Linked DNA regions of Homo sapiens. The protein of the gene in region 1 interacts with the protein of each later gene in a pairwise test. Each region holds a gene or a part of one and is shown on either strand. Other genes may lie near its edges.

Region 1 (3,650 bases):
AGGTCAGGAGTTGGAGACCAGCCTGGCCAACATGGTGAAACCCTGTCTCTACTAAAAATACAAAAATTAGCTGGGCGTGATGGCGGGCACCTATAGTCCCAGCTACTCAGGAGGCTGAGGCAGGAGAATCGCTTGAGCCAGGGAAGCGGAGGTTGCAGTGAACTGAGATCACGCCATTGCCCTCCACCATGGGTGACAGTGCGAGACTACGTGTAAAAAAAATTTAAAAATTAAAAAAAACACAACCATTCTCTTCAGTCCTATTCCCACACACCTAGGAGCTACAGTGAACATGAAACATGCTGAAGTAGCCAAAAGCTATGCAAAACAAAACTATCGTGGATTTAGTATGCGTTCTATGCAATGCTGGAGCCAAGACAGACTTTGCCTCAGTGTGTACAGCAACATTAAAACAGCAAGTCAAAGAAACACTGTTCGCACATTTAATTAAATATCAGTTTATGTTTTATTATGAAGACAATAAAGTCTCAAGGTTATGTTCACTTCCAAAAAACAAAAAAGGAAAAAGGCCATGCACAATGTCTCACACCTGTGAGCCCAGCACTTTGGGAAGCCAAGGTGGGAGGGTCGCTTGAGCCCAGGAGTTCCAGACCAACCTGGGCAACACAGCAAAACCTCATCTCTGCAAACAATTAAAAAATTAGCTGGGTGTGGTGGTGTGCGCCTGTTGTCCCAACTACTTGGGAGGCTGAGGAAGGAGAATTGCTTGAGCCCAGGAATTTCAGGCTGCAGTGAGCCATCATCATGTTGCTTCACTCCAGCCTGGTAACAGAGCAAAAATGTGTCACTGCACCCCAGCCTGGGCAACACAGCAAAACCGTTTTATAAAATTAAAACAAAAAAATTAGTTTGTCAATTACATGGTTCTTTCTTCCTGTTGTATAAATTCAACCATCCTGAACCTTGTTCCCACATATCTAGAAGGGACCAAATTGATACTTAGAAGAAAAATCCCATATAGTTTAAAAGAGGGGAAAGGGCTGGGCACGGTGGCTCATGCCTGTAATCCCAGCACTTTGGGATGCCTAAGTGGGTGGATCACCTGAGGTCACGAGATCGAGACCAACCTGGCCAACATGGTGACACCCAGTCTCTAGTAAAAAAATACAAAAATCAGCCAGATGTGGTGGTGGGCGCCTGTAATCCCAGCTACTCAGGAGGCTAGGGAAGGAAAATCGTTTGAACCCAGGAGGCAGAGTTTGCAGTGAGCCGAGATTGCGCTACTGCACTCCAGCCTGGGTGACAGAGCCAGACTCTGTCTCAAAAAAACAAAAACAAAAAAAGGAGGGGGAAGAACTGTTAGTAATTTGTCAGTAGTTTTTTTTCTTCTTCTTCTTCTTCTTCTGTGTTTTTGGCCAAGAAAGCTTTCCATTCATTAGTTTTTACTACTGAGTAATGTTCATACACTGTATAACCATGTCCCCTGCATAGTGGTTAAGACTGCCTGCTACTTCTGAATCCTAGTTATTTCCTTAGCAGTGGGACATGCAGCAAGCTGCTGGCACTTAACCTCACTGTACTTCAGTTTCACCTACCATGTGTAAAATACTAGTACATAACAATCCTTATTTCCTAAGGTTGCAGATTAGGTGAGATAATACAAATAAAGTTCTTAAAATAGCTCTTTGTACATAGAATGAGTTCAATACATGGTAACCATTGTTATTACTGGTGTACTAACATTGTTATTACTGGTGTACTCATTACTACAATATCTTCAGTAGATTATTCTCTTTTAAAAGTCTAGTTTTAGCCTGTAATCCCAGCACTTTGGGAGGCTGAGGCAGGCGGATCACTTGAGGTCAGGAGTTCGAGACCAGCCCAGCCAACACAATGAAACCCCATCTCTACTAAAAATACAAAAAATTAGCCAGGCGTGGTGGTGGGCGCCTATAATCCCAGCTACTTGGGAGGCTGAGGCAGGAGAATGGCTTGAACCCAGGAGGCGGAGGTTGCAGTGAGCCGAGATTGCACCACTGCACTCCAGCCTGGGCGACAGAGTGAGACTCTGTCTCAAAAAAGAAAAAAAAAAAAAGAGAGAAAAGAAAATTATAAACTGAAACATAAAGGCACTTGAAAAATCTCATTACTGGTAAAAGTATAGATGCTCGATTTACAATGAAGTTACATCCCAATAATCCCATTGTAAACTGAAAGTATCGTAATTTATGCACTTACTACATATAACCTACCAAACATTATAGCTTAAGCCTAGCCTACCTTACCTTAAATGTGCCCAGAACGCTTACATTAGTCTGAAGTTGGGCAAAACTATCTAACGCAAAGCCTACTTTATAATAAAGTGTTAAATATCTCATGTGAAAATATCATACCAGATATCCCTAGTCTGGGAAAAGATGGAAATTCTAAATGTGCTGGGTTTTTTTTTTTGAGACAGAGTCTCGCTCTGTTGCCCAGGCTGGAGTGCAGTGGCACGATCTCAGCTCACTGCAACCTCTGCCTCCTGGGTTCAAGTGATTATCATGCCTCAGCCTCCCAAGTAGCTGGGATTACAGGTGTGTGCCACCATGCCCAGCTAATTTTTGTATTTTAAGTAGATACAGGGTTTTGCCATGTTGGCCAGGCTGGTCTCAAACTCCTGACCTCAAGTGATCTGCCCACCTCGGCCTCCCAAAGTGCTGGGATTACAGGCATGAGCCACCATGCCTGGCCTGAAGTACAGTTTCTAGCAAACAGGTAGCACTTTTGCATCATTATAAAGTAAAAAATCATTAAGTCCAATCATCATAAATTGGGGCCCGTCTGTACTTTTGTTTAAATGGCATACCTTTCTTCTAGCACATTTATACTATCTCTCTTGTCCCACAGGGCCATGGACATTTTGAGACAGCCTAATAGCCACTAAGTGATAATCTGATATGGTAAAGGATTTGATGAAGTAAATGCGCAAAAGCTTGATGCTTTCCCTGCCACTCCCAGGAGGTAGGTCAGTTCAGTTTCGGAACCATCCAAGGAATTGTTTCATTCAACTAGGACCAAGCTTTGATCTTCCCAGGTGGACACCCTAGATGTCCCCGCCTCTCCCTTAACTTGGACCCAAATCCCTGGATTAGCTAATACTGAATCCATCTCCTCCAGGGGGCTGCCTCAAAACCAAACCAGTAACTGGAGATGAAATGCCTACTGCCTTCAGTAAATTATTTTTTGTACCAAACGTTGACACTACTTCATCTCCCTCTCTATAACGTTTGACAGATACTGAATCCTAAGAAGGCCCCAAAATCCTAAATACATAATCTTCTTCCAGTATAAACCAGTAATCCCTCCCTAATAACACCATATTTAGCCCAAATGGGGAGCACACATAAATTAAGACAAACAGCATACCCACTTCACCCTCACTGGTGAAGCTCCTTTTTCACGTGTTTTGGATTCCAGTTAATTGTGCAGAAACTTCTCACCCTGAGGGCAGAGCTTGCATCTGGTTCAGCTCAGCTATCCCCAAGATTTAAGCACTACAAAGTCTCTAGAGCAAATTTAGACCCTATTATCAGATCAAGAGTGCTGTAACCTCAAATCAACATTCCCCAGCTGGCTCAGAGTGGAACCTACCTCAAGGGGTCACTTAGGTAACCTTTAAGTCAAGGAGACAGCCTTTCTCTCCTTGG
Region 2 (3,650 bases), about 48 Mb from region 1:
ACTCATGTTGTGACTGATAGCAAGAATATAACTGTAAAACACAAGAATAAAGTGGATATAGTACTGCAGAATTTCATATACATCGTGTTAAGAGACAGCAATGTAACTGCAGCCAAGATATCTTTGGATGTGATGACTGAACTCTACAAGAAACATCCGGACTGATGCCAAAACTGTCAATGTCATCACAACTGCATGTTTTGAGATATTGGTTGCCACCTTGACATTCTTCCTAGGATAAGATGAAGAAGAGAAACAAATAGGACAGACTCAGAATCTGAGGATAAAGTGACAAGAGACCTACAAGTGCAGTATGTCACTGGGAAGAGTGGCTCCAAACACAAAACACTGAAAAGGTTATGAAAAGTGCCCAGGAAACAAAAGAAGAAAAAACTCACAGTGTTTAACTTTTAAGCTATTAGCTTTATTCATGATCCTCAAAGTTTTACCAAAACACTCCTGAAGCACACAGCTAGAAATCTCTAAGCAGAGGTTTGAGTTAACATGATGCTCATAAATCTTATCTCCAGATTGGCAGAAATTCATAAGCCCTCTAACTTCTATGCCTTTGGGCAAAAGTTTCTGCTGCTGCACCACAGAGAAGTAACAGAAATCACTGTTTGCTAAACATGCATTTCATCACCTGTTAGTCCCAGAGATCACTCAGTTATTGCTCATGACTGTGACCATCCATTATGTTATGGACAAGAACTTTAGGGAAGACATGACAGTCCAAATCAGTGCTATAAGAGGTAATAGCTCAATGTCCCCTAGCCATGACAGAAGAACTTCCTCAAGACCTGTCCCAGTATAAAACACACAAGGATAAGAATATGATGCTGTCTACTATAACTGTGATTCAGTTCTTCCAAATCCTCAGATGATGCAGAATTCCAGGGTAAGCTGACAGAGGCCCCAGTAAAATCAACAGTGCAAGAATATGGCCAGGGACAATGGCTCCTGCCTGTTAAATCCAGCTATTCAAGAGGCTGAGGGAGGAGGATCGCTCGAGGCCAGGAGTTCAAGACCAGCCTGGACAACATGGCAAAACCCTGTTTCTACAAAAAATACAAACATTAGCCAGGCATGGTGGTGCATGCCTGTAATCCCGGCTACTTGGGAAGCTGAAGTGGGAGGATCACTTGAGCCCATGAAGCGGAGGTTGCAGTAAGCTACGATTGCACCACTGCACTCCAGTCTGGGCAACAGAGTAAGACGCTGTAACCAAAAAAAAAAAAAAGAAGGAAAAAAGAAAAGAGAAAGAAAAAGAGAAGGCTGAAAATGATAAAGATGGGTGGGGAAGCACCAGTCTCAGTGAGGAGGAGGGTGCTGCTGGTGAATCTGTTGACAAGTAGAAACTGCAAGAAATCTCCTAGAAGCTGAACAGCACCCATGGAGGAGTGAAAAGCCAAACTAAACGATGACTTCTAGAAAATCTGCATGGCTCAACTAAGGAAAAAATTCAGTGCTGCCCCCAGGGAAAGCCCAAGAGGAAATGTATTGAAATAGTGATAAGGAGCAAGTAATTTTTTCTAACATTGATGACAGTCATAAAAAGCCAAAGTCTGACAAGGAGACATGACTAGCAACTGCAATGGCTGGACAGACCAAAAAGAATTTATGAGGAAGAAAACCAAAATGAATCATTTTCCAAATCCAGAGATAAAGAGAAAAAAGAAGAACTTTGATGATTAGGTATAGCCAGAATGTCCCGTCAAAAAAAATAAGCATTCCTTTGGGGAAAAGCTGCTGCCACTATGAGATACACTTAAAAAAAAAAATAGAAAAATAAAAAGAGAGAAAAAGTAACATCCAAGCCAGCCTTCCATTCCCAAAATAAATTGTCATTAATCTGAAAATTAGTAAATCAAGAATGTTTACATTAGAAAGTCCAAAAGCACTATATCCTGAAAACCACCAAAAAAGGTGAATGACTGCTGAATGACGGGTTTCGTCATTTTTTTTTTTTTTTTTTGAGATGGAGTTTTGCTCCTGTTGCCCAGGCTAGAGCGCAGTGGTGCAATCTCGGTTCACTGCAACCTCCACCTCCCAGTTTCAAGCGATTCTCCTGCCTCAGCCTCCTGAGTAGTTGGGATTACAGGCGCGCGCCACCATACCCAGATAATTTTTTTTTTAATATATTTTTGGTAGAGAGGGGGTTTCATTCATGTTGGCCAGGCTGGTCCCGAACTCCTGACCTCAGGTGATCCACCTGCCTTGGCCTCCCAAAGTGCAAGGATTACCGACGTTAGCCACCACCCTCAGCCCACTTTTTTTTTTTTTTAAGAGACAGAGTCATGCTGTGTTGCCCAGACTGGTCAGAGTCATGCTGTGTTGCCCAGACTGGTCTCAAACTCCTAGCCTCAAGCAATCCTCCCACCTCAACCTCCCAAGTAGCTGGAACTACAGGCGCAAGCCACCACTGGGCTTGATCCCATTTTTGTAAAAAATAACTCTCGGCCAAGTGCAGTGGCTCATGTCTGTAACCCTAACACTTTGGGAGGCTAAGGTGGGAGGATCGCTTGAGCCCGGGAGGTCGAGGCTGCAGAGCCATGACGGCACCAGTGCACTCCAGCCTGAGATACAGAGTGAGATCTTAAAAAAACAAAACAAAAAAAAAAAAAAAACTGCAACACAAAGAATAAGCCCTATGTAAACTATAGACCAATAAATAACAACATATTGATATGGGCTCATCAAATGCAATAAATGTGCCAAATTAATGCAAGATGTTTGCAATAGGAGAAACGAGGGAAGGGAAGGGAATATGGGAACTTTCTGTGCTATCGGCTCAAATTTCTGTACATCTAAAGCTGCTAAAAAAAAGTGTAATTTTTAAATTCTGAATATGCAGACAAATCTGCAAATAATTACTTGTATATGCACACAAAGAGAGGTGAAAAGACCTATATCAAACTGTTGCCCCTGGTTATCTACAAAGGATGAAAACTGGAAACTAGCGCATGAGAAGGAATTTTTTTACATTATACAGTTGGCCCTCCATATCCATGGGCTCTTATGTCTGTGGATTCAACCAAGCTTGGATCCAAAAAGTTTAATATAGCATCTGTATTTGAAACATGCAGACTTTTTTTTCTTGTCTTTATTCCCCAAACAATACAGTATAACAACTATTTACATAGCATTTATATTCTATTAGGTATTATAAGTAATCTAGAAATGATATAAAGTATTTGGGAGGATATGCACAGGTTATATGCAAATACTATGCCATTTATATCAGAGATTTGAGCATCTGTGCATCTTGATATTCACCAAAGGTCCTAGAAGCAGTCCCTACAGACACCAAGGGATGACAGTATATCTCTGGACTGTCTAAACTTTCTACACTGAGCAATAATGTAAGTAGAGGCTCTGTAGCATATTGTTAAGAATTTGGGTTTCTCAAATCAGACTGCATGAAATCAAATCCTAGCTCCACCATTTGCTAGCTGATAAACTTCCAACAGTTACTTAATTTTTCTCCTTGCCTTAGTTTCCTCACCTGTAAAACAGAAATCATAGTATACACTCACAGAGCTGCCACAGCAATTAAATAATTTCATACACGTAAAGTAGTGGAAATTGTCTAGTACATAGTAAGTGCTCAATAAATGTTAACCAGCATCTTCATTACCAAGCATTTATTA

Evidence for each region. Proteins that work in one complex are often made in the same cells at the same time.
Region 2: the proteins of TMBIM6 (region 1) and ADIPOR2 interact in binary tests that used the Homo sapiens proteins (3 or more experiments, as listed by UniProt).

Annotation. Positions count from the first base shown.
Region 1 is NC_000012.12:49,744,487-49,748,136, reverse strand, and holds part of TMBIM6 (bax inhibitor 1), read right to left. Parts: exon of another isoform or gene 3,595-3,650; intron 1-3,594. UniProt on the Homo sapiens protein: Endoplasmic reticulum (ER)-resident protein that confers cellular protection as an anti-apoptotic protein by limiting multiple stress-inducing pathways surrounding the endoplasmic reticulum and mitochondria.
Region 2 is NC_000012.12:1,693,989-1,697,638, reverse strand, and holds part of ADIPOR2 (adiponectin receptor protein 2), read right to left. Parts: intron 1-3,650. UniProt on the Homo sapiens protein: Receptor for ADIPOQ, an essential hormone secreted by adipocytes that regulates glucose and lipid metabolism. Required for normal body fat and glucose homeostasis.